7 linked regions of the Homo sapiens genome follow. The protein of the gene in region 1 purifies or fractionates together with the protein of each later gene. This does not show direct contact. Each region holds a gene or a part of one and is shown in the gene's direction. Other genes may lie near its edges.

Evidence for each region.
Region 2: the proteins of KLHL14 (region 1) and TANGO6 purify together in Homo sapiens (affinity purification with mass spectrometry; one large-scale study listed by BioGRID and IntAct). This does not show direct contact.
Region 3: the proteins of KLHL14 (region 1) and MYO10 purify together in Homo sapiens (affinity purification with mass spectrometry; one large-scale study listed by BioGRID and IntAct). This does not show direct contact.
Region 4: the proteins of KLHL14 (region 1) and TRAPPC8 purify together in Homo sapiens (affinity purification with mass spectrometry; one large-scale study listed by BioGRID and IntAct). This does not show direct contact.
Region 5: the proteins of KLHL14 (region 1) and NEU3 purify together in Homo sapiens (affinity purification with mass spectrometry; one large-scale study listed by BioGRID and IntAct). This does not show direct contact.
Region 6: the proteins of KLHL14 (region 1) and ARHGAP35 purify together in Homo sapiens (affinity purification with mass spectrometry; one large-scale study listed by BioGRID and IntAct). This does not show direct contact.
Region 7: the proteins of KLHL14 (region 1) and CCZ1 purify together in Homo sapiens (affinity purification with mass spectrometry, with the first as the bait; one large-scale study listed by BioGRID). This does not show direct contact.

What each region holds. Positions count from the first base shown.
Region 1 is NC_000018.10:32,766,524-32,770,023, reverse strand, and holds part of KLHL14 (kelch-like protein 14), read left to right. Parts: coding exon 1-379; intron 380-3,500.
Region 2 is NC_000016.10:68,853,531-68,857,030, forward strand, and holds part of TANGO6 (transport and Golgi organization protein 6 homolog), read left to right. Parts: intron 1-3,500.
Region 3 is NC_000005.10:16,695,289-16,698,788, reverse strand, and holds part of MYO10 (unconventional myosin-X), read left to right. Parts: intron 1-3,500. UniProt on the Homo sapiens protein: Myosins are actin-based motor molecules with ATPase activity. Unconventional myosins serve in intracellular movements. MYO10 binds to actin filaments and actin bundles and functions as a plus end-directed motor.
Region 4 is NC_000018.10:31,870,129-31,873,628, reverse strand, and holds part of TRAPPC8 (trafficking protein particle complex subunit 8), read left to right. Parts: intron 1-90; coding exon 91-199; intron 200-2,508; coding exon 2,509-2,703; intron 2,704-3,126; coding exon 3,127-3,257; coding exon of another isoform or gene 3,258-3,269; exon of another isoform or gene 3,270-3,272; intron 3,273-3,500. UniProt on the Homo sapiens protein: Plays a role in endoplasmic reticulum to Golgi apparatus trafficking at a very early stage. Maintains together with TBC1D14 the cycling pool of ATG9 required for initiation of autophagy. Involved in collagen secretion.
Region 5 is NC_000011.10:74,998,933-75,002,432, forward strand, and holds part of NEU3 (sialidase-3), read left to right. Parts: intron 1-1,874; exon of another isoform or gene 1,875-3,500. UniProt on the Homo sapiens protein: Exo-alpha-sialidase that catalyzes the hydrolytic cleavage of the terminal sialic acid (N-acetylneuraminic acid, Neu5Ac) of a glycan moiety in the catabolism of glycolipids, glycoproteins and oligosacharides.
Region 6 is NC_000019.10:46,859,663-46,863,796, forward strand, and holds the start of ARHGAP35 (rho GTPase-activating protein 35), read left to right. Parts: upstream 1-1,334; 5' UTR 1,335-1,394; coding exon of another isoform or gene 1,395-1,658; intron 1,659-3,459; coding exon of another isoform or gene 3,460-3,546; intron 3,547-4,134. Other genes in the region: translation initiation factor IF-2-like, read right to left, coding at 563-1,234, 1,395-1,658, 3,460-3,546.
Region 7 is NC_000007.14:5,924,892-5,927,050, forward strand, and holds the end of CCZ1 (vacuolar fusion protein CCZ1 homolog), read left to right. Parts: intron 1-740; coding exon 741-796; 3' UTR 797-1,476; coding exon of another isoform or gene 1,477-1,657; 3' UTR 1,658-1,659; downstream 1,660-2,159. Other genes in the region: RSPH10B (radial spoke head 10 homolog B), read right to left, coding at 1,477-1,657. UniProt on the Homo sapiens protein: Acts in concert with MON1A, as a guanine exchange factor (GEF) for RAB7, promotes the exchange of GDP to GTP, converting it from an inactive GDP-bound form into an active GTP-bound form.

The sequences.
Region 1 (3,500 bases):
GCAAGATCGCCGCGCTGCACGGCCTGGAGGAGACCAAGAAGCTGGCCAACAAGTACCTGGTGGAGGATGTGCTGCTGCTCAACTTCGAGGAGATGCGCGCCCTGCTGGACTCGCTGCCGCCCCCCGTGGAGTCGGAGCTGGCGCTCTTCCAGATGTCCGTGCTGTGGCTGGAGCACGACCGCGAGACCCGCATGCAGTATGCGCCTGACCTCATGAAGCGCCTCCGCTTCGCCCTCATCCCGGCCCCGGAGCTGGTGGAGCGGGTCCAGTCAGTGGATTTCATGCGAACCGACCCGGTCTGCCAGAAGCTGCTGCTGGACGCCATGAACTACCACCTGATGCCCTTCAGGCAGCACTGCAGGCAGAGCCTGGCCAGCAGGTAGGAGACAACAAAGAGGAGGGCGGGGGAGGGGGGGGTAGAGCCAGAGAGGCCGGAGGGAGGGGAGGGGGCAGGGAGGAGGGAAGAGATGGGTGGCCTGGGCGGGTGGCTCTGGCAGGATGAAAACAAACGCAAACAATTCAGAGTGTGTGAGGAAAGTTGATTTCAGAGTCCCTGAAAGGTCAATAGGGAACTGGCCTAGCAGCATCCCTGAGCGCTCCAAAGCCGAGGTTCTAGATATCCCCAGAGCCGTAAACATGGGAATTGTGGACTCAGACTGAAATTGACAGGCAGATGGGGCCAAAGGCCAGGACAGTTAGAAGTGTAGCTTTGGAAGTCTCTCTAAGCCAGCTCTCCCTACAAATCTTAAGATGGGCTTGCTCAAGAAAAAGGATCCTGTGGTGAGGAATGCCCACCCCACCCCTCCTCAGTTCTGCCTTGGGTGAGCAGAAGAGCCCAGGCGATGCTTGCAAAGGAAGGCTTTCATGGTCTTGCCGTCACACACTCAAGTTGTTTCTTCATGACTGGGATCTGCTCCCTGTCGATGTCAGAACTCCAAAATGCTTTGTCTATTAGGGTCACTATTGGAAATGCTGGTATCATGTGCCCAGGCAAACTTTTCTATGTTGTGGAAAGCCTTTCCTTTTCACTTTTAAAGGAGAGTAAAGCAAGAGATTTCAGGGTGATGGGGTGAATCTTGCCTAGCAACTCCCATTTCTGAGAAGAGTGCACTTGAAAATTGGGATGGAGGAGTGGAGAGGCTTCTAGCTCCAGTTGGTCTGTGTGCCTGCTCACCAGTGACAAAGAAGTTGGAGAGTTGCTGCTGCCTCTGTTGTTGCTAGTTAGAAATGTGGCTGTGTGTGTTGCAAGTAGGATTTCAGGGGAGAGAGAAATGATGCCTTTTAAAAATGCTGCTGAGATAAAAAGGCTGTAGGAATTGACAATCGTGTTTTATTGGCTCCAATTTTAAAACCATTTTTAATGAGCCCTAGCAAAGGGTTTCTTTCTCTTTTTAGAAAAGAGAAACAGTATCCTCTCAGTTTCTCATGATAAAACATCATGATTCCAGATGCCAGGCTACTCCAGCCTAACCACCAAAGTGTTACAAAGTGTAGCAAAGTACATGGTTTGAAAATCTAGCAGGGCATTTTCCCAGTCAGAATGATGTCTAAAGAATGGGGCCCACCTTGTGCAGCCTTATAGAATTAAATGGTGTGTGTGTGTGTGTGTGTGTGTGTGTGTGTGTGTGTGTGTCATTATGTTTCCACCAGACCTAGGTAACTAAAGTTTAAAGAAATGGAAGATACTCTCTACACTTTTTTAGGCAGCTCTTGTGTTAAGGAGAGGCCAACAGGAGGCATGAGAAATCTTGAACTTGTAACAAAACCCTGTAAGTTCATTTTTCTAACATCTGTGGGAGATGAGTTAACGAATCGTGTTGTCAAAAGATGATAATAGGACAATAGAAGAAACAAGAATCCAAATCCCCGTGTGCTTTTAACAGTGAGCACAAGAGGCCAATGAGGAAAAAAACATGAAACGTATTTTTATTTTATTGGAATTTTTCGTTTGTCTAAAGATCCAAATGGCAAACTCAGTGTGATGGGCGATGGGCCTTGGTGATTAATATTCTGTGATTTAAATTTTTGTCACTTTTAAATGACCTACAAGTATACTTCATTTAGCATATATCACACATAGTCAATAATTCAGACAACACAGTTATAGTTCTGAACATACATTTACTCATACTTTTAAAAATATGTATAACACGGTATAAATTCAGAAACCCAGAGGAATAATAAAATTAAGATTTAACTTATTCTAAGAGTAATTTTGGCAGAGGAGCTTTATAAATTTGATCCAGTAAATTTCTGAAGCCCTCAATGCACTTTTATCTAACAGGTATGTCCTAAGGTTCAATGTTAGAAGAGTTGACTTTCAAAATGCAAAATCCATTTCCCACTTTAGTCAAGATTCAGCACACCAGCTAGTGCCTGCTGGCTCTGTCCTGGTGGATGGCTGAGATACCAGGCTGCCTGGCTCCGTGACGACACCCTCCAGCTTCACTGGGCCACATCATTTGAAGGATATGTAGTGGTGTCTGACCACTGAATGCTTACAAGTGTCATGGATGCTGCAAGAATCTGATACTTCTGCAGTAGGAAGAAAACTGTATTTTCTTTTAAAAGAGAAAGATATAGAAAAGCAAATAGTTCATGCGAACCTATCATTGACCTCAAAGTAATATAATTTAGGTTTTATTCCTTTATTAGTAAAGGTAGCATTTTGAATTTTACAGACTAATTACATTATTTTAATTGTAATTCATAGGAAGAATGCCAAAATAACCATGAAGTTCCTAACTTTAAAGTAGACAGAAATGCTGTAAGTTGCAACCAACAATATTAAATCAGCCCATTTATTATAGCATCAGTGTAATATAAAAATGTTCCCTTAGCCTTATGTGTCATTTAACGGGGATAAATGTGTTAACCAATTGTTTTTGAGATTACATCACTTTCATTGAAGACAATTGAATAGAAGGACCTTGTATTTATTACTTTTTATCCACCTGTAGTTTTTAAACTCTAAATATAAAAGAGTTTCTTAAATTCAGAGAAGGAGATGAAAATGTAAAATTGACCAGTCTTTTGGAATAAGTACAAAGTATAAGCAAATAGAATAACTTCAAAAGAGAATTTACTTGTTTAAGAGTATATTATCTATAGAAAGTAGAGATATTAATATAATCATAATTTAAGCATTTTAAAGATTATTAATTTTGAGTTTTCATTAAGCCTAGAAAAGTAAAGGAACCCAAGTATGAAATCTTTATACAAATACTCAAATTAATATAAAATGTTCCCTCTTGTTGCTTGGTTTTTCTAAGTATACCAGTTGCACTTAAATTCATATTCCATTTTACCAAACTTAACATAAGGACAATAAGTAAAATAAGAAACTTGTCACTCTGTATTCAAATACACACATAAGTAATTTAAGATGACAGGATTGACAAAGGATATAAAGTTTCAGTTAGACGGGAAGAATAAGTTTTAGTGATCTATTGCACCAGCAACGTGACCACAGTTAGTAAAAAAGTATTACATATTTCAAA
Region 2 (3,500 bases), on another chromosome or scaffold:
AACATCTTTTTGGCTATGTGGGCTGTTTCCAGTTTTGGGGTATTATGAATAGTGCTGCTATGAACATTCTTGTACAAGTCTTTGTTATGAAAATGTATATTGTGTATTAATTTTTCTTGGACAAGTATGTTAGAGTGGAATTGCTGGATTATAGGGTAGGTATATGTTTGGTTTTCTAAGAAACTGCCAGACCAACTGAGCTTTGATCATGTCATACTTCTGCCAACAGTGTATGAGAGTTCCAGTTGCTTCACGTCATTTGGTAGTGTCAATCTTTGTAAATTTTAACCATTCCAGTGTATGTAGTGGTATCTCATTGTGGTTTTAATTTTCATTTCCCTAATAATTAATGATATTGAGCATCTTTTCATATGCAGTTGGTCATTTGAATAACTTCTTTTTTGAAGTATCTGAATAATTGTCCATTTTTTTAAAAAATAGTTTGTTTTATTGAGCTATAAACTGTTTTCATATATTCAGGATCAATGCGTTTGTCATATATATGTACTGCAAACATTTTCTCCCTATCTGTGGCTTGCCTTTTCATTTTTAGAACTGTATATTTTGAAAATAAGTTTTAAATTTTGATGAAGTCCAGTTTTTTTCCTTTTGGCTCATGCTTTTTATGTTTTAAGAATTCTGTCTGGGCACAGTGGCTCACACCTATAATCCCAGCACTTTAAGAGGCAGAGGCGGAAGAATTGCTTAAGCATAGGAGTTCAAGACCAGCCTGGGCAACATAGTGAGACCTCATCTCTATAAATAATTAGTCAAGCATGGTGGCACACAATTGTAATCCTAGCTACTAGGGAGCTGAGACAGGAGGATCACTTGAACCTGGGAGATTAAGGCTGCAGTGAGCTGGAATCAGGCCACTGCACTCCAGCCTGGGTGACAGAGCAAGACCCTGTTGCAAAAAAAGAAAAGAAACAAACCAAAATAAAACAAAAAACAAGAAATTGTTGTCTACTCTAGGATCATAAAAGACTTTCTTCTGTGTTTTCTTCCAGAAGTTTTATAGTTTAGATTTTGTATTTATGATCTGTTTTGGGTTAATTTTGGTGTGTGGTGTGAATTAAAGGTCAAAGTTTTTTTTTTTTTTTTTCCCCATGTGGATATCCAGTTGTTCCAACCTCATTTGGTAAAGGAATTTTCTTTCCCAGTTGTATTGATTTCATATCTTTATTGAAGATCAAATAGCCATATAAGTGTGGGACTGTTTCTGGGTTCCCAATTCTGTTTTACCAATCTACCTAACAGTCCTTATGCCAGTACCACATTGTCTTTAATTTCTGTAGTTCTATAGTAAGTTGGGTAGTATAAGTTCTCTAACATTGTTCTTGACTGTTCTGGGTCTTATAGGTTTCTATATAAATTTTTTAATCAGTTTGTCAATTTCTGCAAAAAGGTCTGTTGAGATTCTTATTGTAATTGCGTTGACTTTATAGATCAATTTGTGGACAATTGCCATCTTTTTTCTTTTTTTTTTTCCAAGACAGAGTCTTGCTCTGTCACCCAGGTTGGAGTCCAATGGCGTGATCTCAGCTTACTGCAACTACCCAGCTACCTGGGAGGCTGAGGCAGGAGAATCGCTTGAACCTGGGAAGTGGAGGTTGCAGTGAGCTGAGATCCGCCATTGCACTCCAGCCTGGGTGACAAGAATGAAGCTCCGTCTCAAAAAAAAATAAAACATAAAAAATTTCTCAGCAAGTTTTCAGTGTAGAGAGTTTGTATATTTTGTGTTAAATTTATCCTAAATTAAAGTTTTAGGCCAGGCGTGGTGGCTCACACCTGTAATGCCAGCACTTTGGGAGGCCAAGGCAGACAGATCACCTGAGCTCAGGAGTTTGAGACCAGCCTGGGCAACATGGTGAAACCCCATCTCTACTAAAATACAAGAGATCACCCGGGTGTGGTGGCATGCGCCTGTAGTCCCAGCTACTGGGGAGGCTGAGGCACGAGAATTGCTTGAACCCAGGAGGCAAAGCTTGCAGTGAGCCAAGATTGCACCACTGCACTTCAGCCTGGGAGACAAAACAAAACTGTCTCAAAAAAAAAAAGTTTTAAATTTCAGCCGGGCGTGGTGGTGCATGCCTGTAATCCCAGCACTTTGGGAGGCTGAGGCAGGTGGATCACCTGGTCAGGAGTTTGAGACCAGCCTGGCCAACATGGTGGAACCCGATCTCTACTAAAAATACAAAAAAATTAGCCAAGCATTATTACGGGTGCCTGTAATCCCAGCTATTCAGGAGGCTGAGGCAGGAGAATCTCTTGAACCTGGGAGGTGGAGGTTGCCGTGAGTTGAGATTGTGCCACCGCACTCTAGCCTTGACAGAGCAAGACTCAGTCTCAAAAAAAAAAAAAAAATTAAATTTCATTTTCTCATTTTTGCTGCAAATATAAAATAAAATGTCTTTTTTTGTTTTTTAATTTTTGTTTTATTGCTTGTATTCTGTGAACTTGCTAAATTAATTTATTAGTTCTAGTAGTTGTTTTATAGAGTCCTTAGGGCTTTTTACATAAACAATGATTCCATCTGTGAATATAAACAATTTTGCTTCTTCCTTTCTGCTCTTGTATGTCTTTTATTGCTGCTTTTGACCTATTTCAATGACAAAGATTTTCAGTAATATGTTGAATAGAAGTGAGAATAGACATCCTGTGTTTATTTTACTTCACCACTAAGTATGATGGTAACTGTAGGTTTGTCCGTGGATACCCTTTATCAGATCGTAGAAGTTCCCTTTTATTCTTAATTTGTGTCATGAACGAGTGTTGAATTTTGTCAAATGCTTTTTCTGCGTTTGTTGAAATGATCACGTGGGTTTTCTCCTTATACTGTTAATAAGATGAATCACACTGATTGAGTGTCAAGTGTTAAGCCAACTATGTATTCCTGGCATAAACCACACTTGGTAATGAAGTATTATTCTTTTCTATATCACTGCATTTGATTTGCTAATATTTAAGCATTTTTAAAAGTTATTAATAGATTCCGTTTTTTAGAACAGCTTTTGGTTTATAGAATATTTGAGCAGAAAGTACAGAGTTCCCATATACTCCCTTCCCTACCCCAAACCTAGTTTCCCCATTAACATCTTGCATTAGTGTACTACATTTGTTACAACTGATAAACCAATGTTGATACATTGTTATTAACTGAAGTAATAGTTTATATTAGGGTTCACTGTTTGTGTTATATAATTTTATGAGTTTTGACAAATGCATAATATCATATATCCATCATTATAGTCTCATACAGTATAGTTTCACCTCCCTAAAAAACCATGCTTCCTTGGCCAGGCGCGGTGGCTCATGCCTGTAATCCCAGCACTTTGGGAGGCTAAGGTGGGCGGATCACGAGGTCAGGAGATCGAGACCGTCCTGGCTAACACGGTGAAACCCCATCTCTACTAAAAATACAAAAAATTAGCCAGGCATGGTGGCGGGCCCCTGTAGTCCCAGCTACTCAGGAGGCTGAGGCCGGAGAATGGCCTGAA
Region 3 (3,500 bases), on another chromosome or scaffold:
AGCCGGGAGCGGTGGCGGGCTCCTGTAGTGCCAGCTACCTGAGAGGCTGAGGCAGGAGAATGGCGTGAACCCAGGAGGCGGAGCTTGCAGTGAGCCGAGATCGCGCCACTGCACCCCAGCCTGGGCGACAGAGCCAGACGCTGTCTCAAAAAAAAAAAAAAAAAACTGCATGTTCTCTCCTGCCAGGGATATTAGAGAGCCTAAAAGGATGTGCTAGACATGGGGGAAAGTGAAGATCTCACTGAGGCCCACTGCTGGCTTGAACTGCTCACCATACCTACTTCATGATGAGCATTTGCATTGTATGCTTTGATTGTTACTAACATTTGAGTATACTTTGCTGAACCTTAACACTTAGGGGCCTTGAGGCACACTCCTTTTGGAAAATTATTTACTATTTATTTATCTATTTATTTAGGTATTTATTTAAGACAGGGTCTTGCTCTGTTACCCAAGCTAGAGGGCAGTGGTGTGGTCATGGCTCACTGCAGCCTTGAACTCAGGTTCAAGCCATCTTCCTGCCGCAGCCTTCATAGGAGCTAGGACTGCAGGCGCACACCATCATGCCAGGCTAATTTTTTATAGAGATGGAATCTCACTATGTTGCCCAGGCTGGTCTCCAACTCTTGGCCTCAAGCAGTCCTCCCACCTTGGCCTCCCAAAGTGCAGGAATTGCAGGCATGAGCCACCATGCCTAGCCAGAAAATTATTTAATTATTTAATTGGGACCTCATATTTATGCTTTGTTCCTGTTCTTGACTCTGACTCGTAACTCAGTGACAGGGATAATAAGAAACCATAATCATCACCAATTTTGGGCAGGAGTTTTACGTGGATGGTTAAAAAGAAGGGACCGTCCTGTTTCTCGCATGGACCTAGACTGGAGAGGGGAGAGAGTCGAGAAGGTGGAGATGGGCAGGGATATGAGAACCTTCCTCCCCAGGTCTCCTCTTCCTGCTTTCTCCCATATTTGATTTTTAAATTTGTCTTCTTCCTTTTTCTTCACTTTCCTTTTTATTGCCGTCTTTCTTCATTTACATTTACATTTTCTTTTTTTTGTCTTCACCACCATGAAAACCTTTTTTTTTTTTGAGACAGGATCTTGCTCTGTTGCCCAGGCTGGAGTGCAATGGCACAGTCGTGGCTCACTGCAGCCTCCACCCCCGGGGTTCAAGTGATTCTCCTGCCTTAGCCTCCTGAGTAGCTGGGATTACAGGCACACGCCAATGCCCAGCTAATTTTTGTATTTTTAGTAGAGACAGGGTTTCACCATGTCGGCCAGGCTGGTCTCGAACTCCTAACCTTGTGATCTGCCCTCCTTGGCCTCCCAAAGTGCTGGGATTACAGGAGTGAGCCACCGCGCCCAGCCATGAAAACCCTTTTATTCCATTTTCCCTTCTTTCTTTCTGTGCTTCTCTTTTCTGTTAGCTTCTTTACGTTTTTTTCCACGTCTTTTCTTTTGTTATCTTCAATATTTTTTTTCTGTTTTCTTCACTTGTGGCTTTGTTTGCTGGATTCCTTTTTTGCTTCACCTGCTCCTCTTAGAAAACATGGGTCTAGTGACGACTGTCAGTCATTTGCCTTTCAGAGTTCTGCCATCCTCAGCTTTGGAGCCCCACAGTGCTCATGAAACCCCTAGAAGGTTTGGTTTAGGGGAGACTTTTAGTAGGACTGTTGGAATGAAAAACATCAAGGGTGAGGTAGCCAGCACTGGAACACCTGACAAAGGAAAAAATGTCATTGCAAATCAGAACCTTTGATCCAATAAGTATTTAATCATAGCATCTTAAGATTTTCTCAGTTAGAAATCATCTTAACTGTTTTTACTAATATATAATTCCCATTCCTCAATTTTTAATTCCCTAAGTTAATTTGAAAATTCTCTTCAATATTCCTCTTAATGTATGACATTGATTTTTTTTTTTTTTTTTTTGAGACAGAGTCTCGCTCTGTCACCCAGGCTGGAGTGCAGTGGTGCGAACTCGGCTCACCACAACTGCCGCCTCCCAAGTTTGAGCTATTCTTCTGGCTCAGCCTCCTGAGTAGCTGGGATTACAGGCGTGCGCCACCACGCCTGACTAATTTTTGTATTTTGAGTAGAGACGGGGTTTCACCATGTTGGCCAGGCTGGTCTTGAACTCTTGACCTTGTGATCCACCCGCCTCAGCCTCCCAAAGTGCTGGGATTACAGGCGTGAGACACCACGCCCGGCAGCATTGATTTATTATACAGTTACTGGATTAAAACCAGTAAGAGTAGGAAAAAAGTAAAGACACATTCAAAGTATTAAAATCAGGGTCAAAGAAGTTAAATGGGTGAGTTTTCGGCATCTCTTAAAGCTATTGTGTAAATGCAGCCTCATTTAATACTTAATAAAACTTTAATTAAAGCAGAGCCAAAAAGTTTCAGAGCAACGAATGAATGAAAAAGAAAATCTAATCACCAATTTATATTTTATGGGCATAAATAAATTTTTACAACCAAATAACCTACTAAAGATGTTTGCAATTAGGAAATTATAGCATTAAGTGATTCTCTAAATGATGAATTATCAAGAGAGGGCCTGAAATTGCAAAGGGAGGGCCAAGAGTGAGTGCTATCAATAAATAAATAAATAAATCTAATTAATCAATTAGATTAAATAAACTAATGGTGAGAGCTGTCGTGATGACTCTTCTAATCTTTGAAACAACTGTGAATAAGCTTTATCATTTAACAACAACAAGATAATAGAATAATTTTGCACAGTTTTCCTCCAGGCTTGTTTTGAGAAACCCAGATTAAAGTCACAAATCAAAACACTAATAATGTTTCATTCTGGTAGCCGTTGGCAAGTTTGCCATATGTTAGGACACGGCTCTGCAGCTTGGCACAATTACCAAAGATGTCTCAGCTAGATGAGCAGGGGCCTCTTGGACAAAAGGAGGGAGAGGAGTCTAGAAAGTTCAGTGAAGCAAGTGCACTGTCTGGTTTTCACACAGTGAACGCATAAAAGGATAGGATTATACTTACTTTAAATATCCCATGTTTAAATGACCCTTATTTTCATTACTGGTTGGTCAAAAGAAAATAATGTGTGGACAGTCTTATAATAACAGATGTGTGTCAGATGTTGATCTTGAGCAGGTTGGGGAATCTGGAATACAAAATTATCCTCCCTGAAGAGCATAGCAAGATTTTTTTATCCTATGAAAGATAACATCTGTATATTTAAGTTCAAATCTTAGTGTAGTTTGTACTCTTGCTTTCTTTTTTTTTTTTTCATAGTCTCAGTCTTATACCTGTAAACCATTTTCAGATGATGCTTTTCTTTGAAAAGATGTTTTTCTCCAAAAAGCCATATTGTCTTTACCTGTGTAAGTTAGACTTTATCAGTCAACCCTGGAATCACTGATAATTCTTGTTCGCACATTGACCAAATATGGAAGGAAATGGGTAAACTTTGTTTATTTTTTGAGACGGAGTCTCACTCTGTCACCCAGGCTGGAGTCTAGTGGTAC
Region 4 (3,500 bases), 900 kb from region 1:
TTTAATGCCTTGTGTATTAAGAAACGAGGAAACAAATAAAAATACCATTTTCACAAAAACTACTTTTTTTCCCTTTTATATTTCTCTCAGAATGTAAGTCAGCTGTCACCAGATGGTCCTTTGCCACAGCTTCCTTTACCGTATATTAACAGTTCAGCAACACGGGTTTTTTTTGGCCATGACAGACGACCAGCGGATGGTTAGTAAAGTTTTATTTAGCCTAATTACCTAATGACAATTTAAAAAAAACTTCTTTTCCTTTCTCCATTTAAAAAACGATGTATAGTTGAATATTTGAAAATTAATAGCTCAGCCGGGTACGATTGGCTCATGCCTGTAATCCCAGCACTTTGGGAGGCTGAGGCCGGCAGATCATGAGGTCAGGAGATCGAGACCATCCTGGCTAACATGGTGAAACCCCATCTCTACTAAAAATACAAAAAATTAGCTGGGCGTGGTGGCACATGCTTGTAGTCCCATCAACTCAAGAGGCTGAGGTAGGAGAATGGCGTGAACCCGGGAGGCGGAGGTTGCAGTGAGCTGAGATCACGACACTGCACTCCAGCCTGGGCGACAGAGTGAAACTTTGTCTCAAAAAAAAAAAAAAAAAAAAAAAAAAAAGGAAAATGAATAGCTCTCTATTACTTCTTTTGTCCTGTCACCTGAAGATAACTACTATTTTGGTGTTTCTCTTTCCAGCTTTAAAAACTAAAAACAATGAAATGAAAACAAAACAGTTGTAATTACAACAGCTTTTCTCACTTAAAGAATGCTTTTGTTATTATATAATCTTCATAAACGTTTAATGTTAGTAAAATATTCTATTCAGTGCTTATAAAGTACTTTATTTTAACATCCACTTGATATATATAGACTGTTTCCATCTTTTGCTTATATAAAATTATATTGTGGCCGGGTGTGGTGGCTCACACCTGTAATCCCAGCACTTTGGGAGGCCAAGACGGGCAGATCATGAGGTCAAGAGATTGAGACCATCCTGGCCAACATGGTGAAACCCTGTCTCTACTAAAAATACAAAAAACTAGCTGGGCGTGGTGGCATGCGCCTGTAGTCCCAGCTACTCGGGAGGCTGAATCAGGAGAATCGCTTGAACCCAGGAGGCGGAGGTTGCAGTAGCCGAGATCTCGCCACTGCGCTCCAGCAAGACTGTCTCAAAAAAAAAAAATCGTATTGTGATGGACATCTTTGTAGATAAAATTTGTTTTTTAAATGTCTTATGGAAATTTTCAAATGTACATAGAAGTAAAGAACAGTTACCAATGTTCTGCTGTTCTTGTAAGACTTTTTTTTAAATGCAGGATGATTTATTTAGGATTGAACCCTAGAATGGCAATAATGGAACAAAAGTATAAATATATTAAGCTCTTCATTATCTTACATTAAATAACTCAGAAACAGAAAGTCAAATACTACATGCTCCCATCGATAACTGGGGTTGGAGCTAAATAATGTGTACACATAGACATTGAGACTTGGGAGGGTAGGGAATGAAGGATGAGAAATTACTTATGGGTACAATGTATACTATTTGGGTGATGGCTACACGAAAAGCCCAGACTTTGCCACCAAGAAAATATGTCTGTATAACAAAACATAACTTGTACCCCCTAAATCTATACAAATATATTTTATATAAATGCATATATTTTAAAGCTCTCGATGGCTGTTAAACTTTGTCATTCTAAACATTCTTATATTTGAATTTAATCAACGTTTCTCCTTGAGATACGATTTAGTATTTTTTTTTTAAATTGTCATATTCATAGTAGCATTGTTTGTAGTAGCAAAAGAGTGAAAGAAATAGAATTCCTAATAGAGGATTAATTGATATGGTTTTGTATATTCACATAATGGATTCATGCTGCAGTACATGAGAATTCATGCTAATTCTACATTTCCCACAACTTGATGCTGAGTGAAGAGTCAATTACAGTATAAGTTTCAAACATAAAAACTAATTTTATGCATTTTTTAGATATACTTATGTGGTAAAATCATGGATGAAAATGATACACTTTAACTTTGGAATACCTCTGGGAAGAAGTGATGCCAGTGGGGGCGAAGGAGAGTAATAAGATTGGGGGTGGTGCAGAGAGGACATCGACTCTATCTGTGATGTTTTTTTTTTATTAAAAATATTTGGGATCATAGGTGAAAGTTGACATTTGTTAAATTTTAGTATACAAATATTTGTTATATTAGTCTCCATGCCTTTTCTGTATATTTGAAATGTTTTATATAAAAATTGCTTGTGGACACGAGGGAAAATACATTCTTTCAGAGTCAGGAGGAAAAGAACATCAGTATTATAAGCAAAATCCAGATAAGCTAGGATTAATGAGAGGATATTTTTCACTCAGAATTAGAAATAGGCAAGAGTGAATGTATATATATATATTTTTTTATTTCTGTACCTTATGTCTATTTAAAATATGTTTTATTTGAGGGCAAGTCTTCATAAACGTGTTGTTAACAAATTTTTTTTAGGTGAAAAACAAGCAGCTACTCATGTAAGTCTTGATCAAGAATATGATTCTGAATCCTCTCAGCAGTGGCGAGAACTTGAGGAACAAGTTGTTTCTGTGGTTAACAAAGGAGTAATTCCATCCAATTTTCATCCCACACAATACTGTTTGAACAGTTACTCAGATAATTCAAGATTTCCACTTGCAGTTGTAGAAGGTGATATACTTGAATTTTTATTTCTGTTTTTTATTTGTTTTACTTACAGCATGATGAAGATAATTTATTGTTTGGCACACATAATTGGTGCTGGGGATGCAAAAATAAATTAGGAACTCATAATTTACTGAGCTGCATTTATAAAACCAGACAAGGGGGACTCTTCTACAGCTATTTGCAATGTGATGTTGGAATATACAAGAGGGAATGGCATTCTTTAGTACAGAGAAATTGGGGAAATCTTTTCAAGGAGGTAATGTAGTATTACAACAGAATCCTGAATACGTGGACATTTATAAGGTAATAAAGGACAGTCTAGGCAGAAATGCAGAGCTATGAAAGCAAGATGCATTTAGAAGATCGAAGCTGAGAATGAGGTGTGATGTTTATTAAAGTTATTAATTTAGGCCTTTTTTTTAATAGAACCAATTACAGTGGAAGTGGCTTTTAGAAACCCTTTGAAAGTTCTACTTTTGTTGACTGATTTGTCATTGCTTTGGAAGTTTCATCCTAAAGATTTCAGTGGAAAGGATAATGAAGAAGTTAAACAACTAGTAAGTTATTAAAAGGTATTTGTAATTATGTTTCAGCTACAGCCTAACAAATGCTGTAGTAACATTTCAATGTACTCTGTTCAGTGAGCTATACTTCTTTTTGGTTTATTTTTCCTTAGTTATAAAAATTATGATATGTACTTATTTTTGAAAATTGAAAATACATAAAAACATAAGGAATAGAAGTGAAACCATCTGTCTTCATAATATTTAGAAATAACCACTTTAACATTTTGCTGTGTA
Region 5 (3,500 bases), on another chromosome or scaffold:
ATCGTCATGTTGCACTGTTTTTGATCACAGACAGTAGGCTGTTAAGCATTTTTTTTAATCCTATTTTTTAGAGACAACTTCTATGTTGCCTAGGCTGGTCTTGAACTCCTGGCTCAAGCAATTTTCCTATCTCAGCCTCCTGAGTAGCTACGACTACAGGTGTACACCACTGTGCCCAGCCTTTTAAATTTTAACTGTCTGTTTGTCTGTCTGTCTGTCTAGAGACGAGCCCTCTCTGCATTGCCCAGGCGGGAGTGCAGTGGCTATTCACAGGCTTGATCATTGCATACTATAGCCTCAAACTCCTGGCCTCAAGCAATCTTCTCACCTAAGCCTCCTGAGTAGCCGCCACTACAGGCAGGTGCCACTGAGCCCAGCAAGCATTTTTTATCAGACCACACCTGTTGCATAACTTCACTACTCAGTAGTCACACACATCCACAAACTTGTCCACTTTAACTCATTCTCTCTTTATTTCATTCTCTGACTTATTTAATTGTACAATCTTGAAGTTAGAAGAATCATGAGCCCAATTCTTTCCCAATATAGAAATCTGTATTCTATTGGTAGTTACTGAAATCTTAGTGATTAAGAGCATGGCTTTGGAGTCAGTCAAGACCTATCATTTATTGGCTTTTTGGCCTTGGATACTTGACTCTTCTCTGTTTCATCAGCTGCAACATATAATTAATAATAGATACTACATAGTAAGAACTAAACATTTGTCATTTTCCATTAAGGGTCTCCTTGCACAACTCTTCAGGTGAGCACCTGATTGCTGTGGCAGCTGGTTTTTATGTGTGAATGAGATGATCTCTACTTCTCTATAATTACCCATTGGTTTGTTCTGCCTTCTGGGGCAGTCAGTCTATACAAAATGTAGATAAAATCTCTTTTTCAGAGAACTACTCTCTGAAGTACCTGAAAGCTGTATTCATGCCCTCTGAGTAGTCTGTTTTCTGGGCTAAACAGCTTCAGTTCTTTCTGTAACTTCTTAGGGCACAGTCCTGATTTGGTTTCTGGCCCCTTGAAAATTGTGATTACTGTCGTTGGGATCTGGTCTGAGATAGCAGTGTCCTTTTTTAAAGTAGGATACTCAGAATTGAACTTGGGACTCCAAGGGTAGACAGGCCAGCTCAGCAATGAGGTGAGCTCTCCTATCTTGTATTCCCTTTAATGCAATTGAAAGTAAAATAGCACTTTCTTGGTAGCTACATAGCACAATTGACTAATGTTGAGTAGATGGTCAGCCAAAACCTCCAAGTCTTTTTCACATTTGTTATTCTTTTAAAAAAAAAATTAATTGTAGTAAAATACATCTAACATAAATTTTACCATCCTAACCATTTTTAAGTGTATAGTTCAGTAGTGCCAGGTATATTCAAATTGTGCACCCAATCTTCAGAACTTTTGATTTTTCAAAACTGAAAGTCTACACCCATTAAACAGCTCCCCATTTCTCCCTCCTCAGTCCCTGGCAACCACTAATCTACTTTCTGTTTCTATAATTTTGACTACTCTAGATATCTCATATAAGTGGAATTGTATAGTGTTTGTCTTTTTGTGATGGCTTATTTCACTTATATAATGTCCTCAAGTTTCATCCATGTTGTAGCATGTATCAGAATTTCCTTCCTATTTAAGGCTGAATAATATATCATTGTATGTATATACCATATTTTGTTTATACATTTTTTTTTTTTTTGAGGCAGGGTCTCACTTTGTTGCCCAGGCTGGAGTGCAGTGGCATGATCATGGCTCTGCAACCTCGAACTCCTGGGCTCAAGCAATCCTCTGCCTCCTGAGTAGCTGGGACTACAAGTGTGTGCCACCATACCCAGCTAATTTATTTATTTATTTATTTATTTATTTATTTATTTATTTATTGTAGAAATGGGGTTTCAGTATGTTGCCCGGGCTCCATTCATCTCTTGATGGATACTTTGGTTGCTTTTGCCTGTTGGGTATTGTGAATAACATTGCTATGAATAAGGGTGTGAAAATATCTCTTTGGGACCTTGCTTTTAATTCTTTTGGACATAAACACAGAAGTGGAATTGCTGGATCACTTGGTAATTTTATATGTAATGAGAAACTGGCATGCCATTTTCCATAGTGGCTACACCATTTTATATTCCTACCAACAGTACACAGTGGTTCTAGTTTTCCACATCCCCACCGACATTTGTCATTTTCTGGTGTGTGTGTGTGGTAGCTGTCCAAATAGTTGTCAGGGTGATACCTCATTGTGTTTTTTAGTTGTATTTCCCCATTAATTAGTGATGCTGAACATGTTTTCATATGCTTGTTGGCCATTACGTTTGTTCTTGTTTTTCTTTTTCTTTTTTTTTTCTTTTTTTTTTTTTTGAGATGGAGTCTTACTCTGTCACCCAGGCTGGAGTACAGTGGTCAACTCGGCTCACTGCAACCTCTCCCTCCTGGGTTAAAGCAATTCTCCTGCCACAGCCTCCCAAGTAGCTGGGACTACAGGTGTGTGCCACCATGCCTGGCTAATTTTTTTTGCATTTTTAGTAGAGACAGGGTTTCACCATGTTGGCCAGGCTGGTCTCAAACTCCTGACCTCAAGTAATCCACCCGCCTTGACCTCCCAAAGTACTAGGATTACAGGCATAAGCCACAGCACCTGGCCTACATTTGTTCTTTAATCAGTTTACCCCATGCAAATTTTTAAGCCACAACCTGTTTTATCTCTGTCAAGCCTCAGCTTGTTTTATATGTCCCATTGCTCCAGCTAGTTGAGAGCATCTTAGATTCCAAGACTTTCATGCTATGTTTACTCTTTTTTCCATCTTCATGTCAACTGTATGTTAGATATACCTGGCTCAAATAATTTTCTTCTCTCAGCCACTAAGGATGACTAAACTTCTGACTTCTCAAAAACTAGACTGCTTAATAAGTAAGCTGACTTGATCACATATCTCTGGCATGTTTAGTGTGCTCAGGGCACTCAGGTATAGAATGGGCTGTCCCAGAGATCTTGAATTCCCTGTTGAACTAGCTTAGTTCAAGGACGGAATGGTCTTTTATCCAGAAGACTGCGAGGGGACTCTTCCGTGGGATGGGAGTTAGCACTAGATAACCCTTATGGTCCATAATGGCTTAGATTTCTTTTTTGTTTTTGAAACAGGGTCTTGATCTGTCACCTAGGGTGGAGTGCAGTGATTGATCATAGCTCACTGCTGCCTCAAACTCCTGGACTTAAGTGATTCTCCTGCCTCAGACTTCCAAGTAGATAATGTAAAAATTATCTAGACCCAGATCATGTAAAAAAAAATGTTTTGTAGAGATAAGGACCCACTATGTTGCCCAAGTTGATCTCAAACTCCTGGCCTCAGGCAAATGGCTCTGAGAGTCTATGATCTGCGCCTGCTTAATCTGTTTTGTCCATTTATACAGAAATTAATTTTTTAAATTTATTTTTTGTTTTAGGTAGTTAATACATTTCATATAGCTGAAAAATAAAAAAAGTATAAAAAGAT
Region 6 (4,134 bases), on another chromosome or scaffold:
ACTATGTATGCAATGCATGATTTCAAGAGCTTTGCAAAATATAATCTATTTAATTTTCACAGCAGCCCTACGAGAGAGGTACGATTATTATCCCATTTTATAGATGAAGAGACTGATGGCAGAAATGCCAAATGTAATAGGAAACAGCCTTTCTTCATGCATTCCACAAATATTGGCTCGGCGCCCGGGAAGCTCATCTTCCACGATCTGTACTTCCGGAGGAGTCCCAGAGGAACACCTCCTCAGTTCAGAGGAGTCAAGGGTTACAGCGGTGCCCTCTCCCATCACTACTCTTTTCCCTTCAGGCGCCCTAATTGACATTCGATTTGTAGCCATTTGCACAATGCTAAGTGACAGGCTTGGGCTGCACACAGGACCAGGCCGTCTTCCCTCTCCTGGGGATCAGTCGTTCACAGAACCAAAAACAAGTTGCATGGACGCGCGCGTTGGCTGCAGATTTTCTTCACAGCCAGGAGAAAGAGCACGCGCTCTCCAGCCCCGCCTCTTCTTCCGGGACGACGAATTGCGGGGCTCGGATTGGGCTGAGGCGGGCCACGCCTCCTCATATCCTCCAATCAACTCCCTCTCTGGTGCGCTCCCTCCTTCTCAGCCCCGCCCCACCGCCCCACGTTACGTCGCTCCTTCTGGCCTCCTCCGTTATCCCGGCGGCTGCGGCTCGCGCGGCAAACCCACCTCCCATTGCTTCCCATTGGCTGGTCAGGTCCCGCGCGAGCGGGATCGCGCCCTTCGCCCCCCACCCCCAAAACCGGGCCATGCCTCTCTCCTTCGGCTTTCTCCAGGAGCCAGCGCGAGGCAGTAGATCGGCTGCTTGAGACGCGCGCGCAGCTCCTGCGGACCACTCCCTCCGCCCTGCGCCAGCAGCTGCGCCGGCTGGCAGCCCCCCGCGCACGCGCGCTCGCCCATCCCGCTCCCTCTGCTCGTTTGCAAGTCGCCTCGCGCTCAGTCGCGACGGCGGCCGCCGCAATAGCGGCATTTTCGGGGGCGCACGCGCACTGCACCGTCCGCGGCCGTTCCTAACCTCAGGCAGCGGCTGTGGCAGTAAGCCCCTCGGGTGCGCACGCGCTCTGACCTCTTCCCACTGCCTCGCTGGTTGTCCCTTCGCGGCGCGCGCCCAGGGGCCGTTATACCCCTGCAACGGTCCACGCGCCGCGCACGCGCAGTAGCGAGGGGGCGCGCGCGCGGGAGCGGCCGTCGCAGGAAGGAGGTGCCGCCGCTGCCGCCATTGCGAGGGAGGGAGGGAGGGAGGGAGTGAGCGAGGCTGGTCCGCCCTCCCCCTGGTTGCCGCCCCTCCCCCCTTCCCCTCCCCGCCCCCCGCCCCGAGGGAGAGCCGCGGCGCGGCGGCAGGAGGAGGTGGAGGAGGCGGAGGAGGGAACCCGCGAGGGAGGGTCCGCCCGGCCCCCCGCCGCCGGAGCCGCCGCCGCCGCCTCAGCCGCCGCTGGACTAGGAGCAGGGGAACATGGCGCCGGGGCCCCCGTCGTTGCTGCCGGGATTTTGGAGGCCGGGGCCGCGCTGAGGGCGCCCAGCTGGTGAGTGCGCGAGCTCACGGGCCCCGGGCGGCGAGGCCGGGCGCCGCCCCGCTGCGGGGTCCAGGGGGAGGCGGGGACGGCGGGGCCCGGAGCCCGCGAACAATGGAGGAGCTGGAGGGGGAGGGGAGGAGCGGCCCCCCCCCCAGCCCCCCGGGCCCCGCCGTCCCCGTCGCTTCGCGCGTCGGCCCGGCCCGTGGGGCCCTCCTGCCCTTTGGACCTGCCCCTGCCCGCCCCAGCCCTGCTGTCCCCGCCGCCGCCCCCATCCCCGACCCGTTGGGATCTCGGTGTCTGCCTCGGAGCCTACCCGACTTCAGCCAACCGGTTCCCAATTCTGCGCCCCCCTTCCCCCTTCCACCCCTCCATAATGCCCTTCGCTCCTCCCGGGCTCTGCAGTGCTCCTGGGACCCATCTTCTCCTCATTGACCATTCTGCATCTCTTAATTGTGGCTCCCACTTTTGAGATCCGTGACGCTTCTCCCTCTTCTCGATTCTGCTCTCACCACCCTTCAGATCTGTCCTCGGCCCCTTCTTTGACCTACCTTCTGTGCTATTATTCCTGTCTCAGAATCTGTTGCACCCTGGGAGCTGTCCCTTTAGGACCTGCGGTTCCAACCCTTTGGAGATCCATCTGAGACCCCTGTTCGGCCAGGCACTGCTGCCCCAGGTCTTCCCCTTGGACTGAATCCCGTTCCCTCGTGGGCCCTACTACCCGCATTTCTTGTCTGCCCTCTCGCAGAGCCTGCTGCACCCCGGGATGCCCCTCGGCTGGCTTTCTGACCCTTCCGTGCCCCAGCTCATTCCCCTGATCCCCTCGGACTTGGCTGCACCGTGCTTGCCTGTTCCCCTTCTCAGCTCTTGTTCCCGTTTACCATTCAGACCCTTTCCTCTCTTCCAGACCTTTCTGCCTCTCAGCTCTGCCCCTTGCCCGACCTCAGATCTTGCTGCGCTCCCCTCACCTGCTTGCTTCTGACTCTGCCTTCCCGGGAAGCAGCCTCCTCCCCCTTCTCTGACTCTGCAGGTCTCCCATTTCTGCTATTCACTTAAATGATGTATCCCTAACTCAGACTGCCTTCAGTTTCAGCCCGTGTTCTCTTGGAGGTTTCCTCTCTTCCCCACCTCCTTTTTGGCACTCCTCTGAGCTACTGCATTCATTTGCTTCTCCTTTCTTTGGCCTGTCTCTCCTTCAGTTCTCTGCCTGAAAACTGCTTCCTGTCCCCTCTTTGCTCCAATTCCTCTCCTCCCCGTTTTAGCCCTTAGACATGCCCTTTAACCTCACTATACCTCTGATACCTCCCGGGCTGGTCACCCATCCCCTTCCTGTTCTGCATCTCACAGACCTGCCCCTAGATCCATTTTGTACCTACACTTTCTTCTCGTTTTTTTCAATTCTGCTCCATCCTCTTTATTTAGTGTTTCCCTCCCCAGCTCGGCTCCTTCGGAGCTGTCCACTTGCCCGCATATTTTTAGACCGGTTTTTAACTTCTGTATTGCCGTCCTTTCTTGGAGCGGTCCTTTAACACTGGGGTTCTTGTCACTGTGTCCCCTCTCTGTTCCCTCCCGAGTCTTTTAAGTTTTCCACATGACAGTCTCTTCCCCCCACCATTTTGATTCAGCCCTCACCCTTCACTCTGCTTTATTTGCCCACCCTCCACTGTTCTGCCTCTTGTCTTCTTTTGGAGTTCTCACTCCAATTGTGACATTACGATGTCTTCTTAATCATTCTTTCCTATGTATTCCCCCCCACCTTCCTCTTGGAGCTGCCTCAGTGCTGTGATAGATTATCACTCCCCTTTGATATCCCTCTCCCAATTCTGTTCCTCTTGGACTTGTTTCCTTCCTCACCTTTTTTTTTTTTTTCCTTCCCCTTGTATCCTGCCAGGCTCCTTCTCTTCCCATTTAGTTCCTATCAGACCTGCTCCTCGCAGCTCACCACCCGTGGCCCACCCATTCCCCATTGAGCACTTCCCCTTTCAGGCATATCTTTCTTTCCATCCCTCTGCTGCAGAGGCAAAGGGGCTGGATTGGGCCTTAGGCTCTCCAGGCTCTGAGACTGCAGATTCTCTCTCTGCGCCCTAACCCTGAGGGTTCTCTCCCCAGGGATCCTGAGAGATCTGGGTAAATAGGTGGGGGTTGGTTGATTGTTACTACTCTCTGGAGTCTGGGAGTGTCTCCCCCATTTCCCCCACTTCCACTAGGTTAGTAGTGTGGGGGGAGGTAGATCTTTTTCCATTGCCCCATTTTCTTTCCTCTGCTGTTTGCTCTCTCCCTTCCTATCTCTGGGCTTTGCAGCTTTGTGTCCTTTGGAAAAGGGGATTGCAGCTGCTCGCAGATCTTTATTCTCTTTCTCACTTTCCCTCCTTCCTTCTCTGAGCCATTGCATAGAGTACCCTCTCTCCCCTTCCACCTCTAAGCCAGCAACCCTAGGAGTGTCCTTCCCTTCCCCCCCGCCTTCGCCCCTCCCCCCCAGCTAACAAGTTATTTCAATATATAGTTTTACCTCTAGCTGGGGAAATGCCAGTTCTCAAATTATCCCGATCCCACCAGGGGTTATGGCCACAGTTGGACCTAGGGAAGCTACAGTATTGCC
Region 7 (2,159 bases), on another chromosome or scaffold:
GCGCACTAGAAACATCAGTTAATGCAAGCCTGATCTAAACTGTGAATGTGGTAAGATCAAAATCCTGACCCCTCTGCGGAGCACTTGGTCTGCAGCTCAAGGTTGCTGTCCGTTTCTTTGTTGTTCCATTAGTTGTCCCAGGATGACAACCTTGTGCTTGGTGTGTGTCACCAGCCTTGTGCTTCTAACCCCCTCCCCTGGGTGTCCCGGGCACTTTGCAGTTTCTCAGGCCCCGGGCAGCAGTGTTGATAGGCTCAAAACTCCTGAGGCCTGGTAGGTTTTGTAGGTGGATTTTTTCCCCTCTTCTACTTGTTAACATTTCTTGGCTGGGCACAGTGGTTCATGCCTGTAATCCCAGCACTTTGGGAGACCAAGGTGGGCGGATCACTTGAGGTTAGGAGTTCGAGACCAGCCTGGCCAACATGGCGAAACCCTGTCTCTACCAAAAAATACAAACATTAGCAGGGCGTGGTGGTGTGCACCTGTAGTCCCAGCTACTTGGGAGGCAGAGGCTGCAGTGAGCCAAGATCACACCACTACACTCCAGCCTGGGTGACAGAGCAAGACTCTGTCTCAAACAAAAAAAAAAAAAAAAAATTCTTGCCTAGTCTTCTGGGATTTAAGGTCAAAATCAATGCAAATCTCTCTTCCTAATTTTACCCAAGAAGAATTTAATTATATATCATGTAACCTTTTAAGTGACTGCCTCTTCCTTCCTCACTGTTGTGTCCTTGTTGCAGAAGAGGTCAAGAAACTTTGTGCAACGCAGTTCAACAACATCTTCTTCTTGGATTGACGGATGACGGCTCACCGAGAGCATATCTAAAAAACACTCTGCAAACATTTGGTCACATGCAAGTTAGTGGTCATATGACGGACTGCATTCAGGACAAGGGTAAAGCAATACTTGCTTTGAAGAATCACATTTCGACTCGGTCTGCTGATCTGAGGTTTTTAGATTTTAAATATTTATGTGGAATTAATTAAAGGTAGTTGGCTATATCGCTATCATTTCATTCTTTTGACATTATGTGAATATTTTACTGGAAAATAAGACTAATAAATTGTTAAAAGTTTTTAAAATTCTGGTTTGGTGTTGAGTCTCTCTCCTGCTGCCTATTTATAGATTACACTGGCCACCAGCTCCGTGACCCAGGCTGGAATGCAATGGCTCACTGCAGCCTCAACCTCCTGAGCTCAAGCAATCCTCCCACCTCAGCCTCCCAAGAAGCTAGAACCACATGTACACACCACCACGGTCGGCTGATGTTTTAATTTTGCAGAGATGGGGGGGTCTCACTATGTTGCCCAGGCTGGTCTCGAACTCCCGTAATCCAGCCATGTAGGAAACCTGAGATGCAGTGGGCCAAGGGGTATGTTAAAACACTGTGACGAGTTCAGTGCTAAGAACTGTAATGCTCAGGAAATCTTACAGCACGTGCCATCCTAAGCCTGTGTGTGTGTCCTCGTGTCTCTCTACTTTTTCTTCTTCTTGCTGGTGATGGTCTTGCTGGATGGGGACACGGTCACATCCTCCTTGGGAGGGTCCAGTATGAGGTGAGAGGATGACACGTCTGCCGGCTCCTTGAGCACTGTGATGTCCACCTCATAGTCATGTCTCTTGGCCTCTTCCTCTCTCAAGATGAAGATGTTCAGCCTAAAAGCAAACATGAGAAGGTGGTAGCTTTTTTTATCCCCCTCCAAACTGCAAAACCAGTTTTAGGCTATTTATAGTATACAGCCCTTCATACCTGCATTTCAACAGCATGTGTAAACAAAACTGTAAGTTGCTACACTCTGCCTGAAATAACTGATGCCATGTCGACACAGTCCAAAATAAACTTCTCATCTATCTATGAAAAGAAAATTTTTTCTCGAGACAGACAGAGTTTCGCTCTTGTTGCCCAGGCTGGAGTGCAATGGTGCAATCTCGGCTCACTGTAACTTCCGCCTCCCGAGTTCAAGCGATTCTCCTGCCTCAGCCTCCTGAATAGCTGGGATTATAGGCTTCCGCTACCACGCCCGGCTAATATTTTGTATTTTTAGTAGAGATGGGTTTCACCAGGTTGGCCAGGCTGGTCTCAAACTCCTGACCTCAGGTGATCCACCCACCTCGGCCTCCCAAAGTTACGTGTGTGTGTGTGTGTGTGTGTGTATTA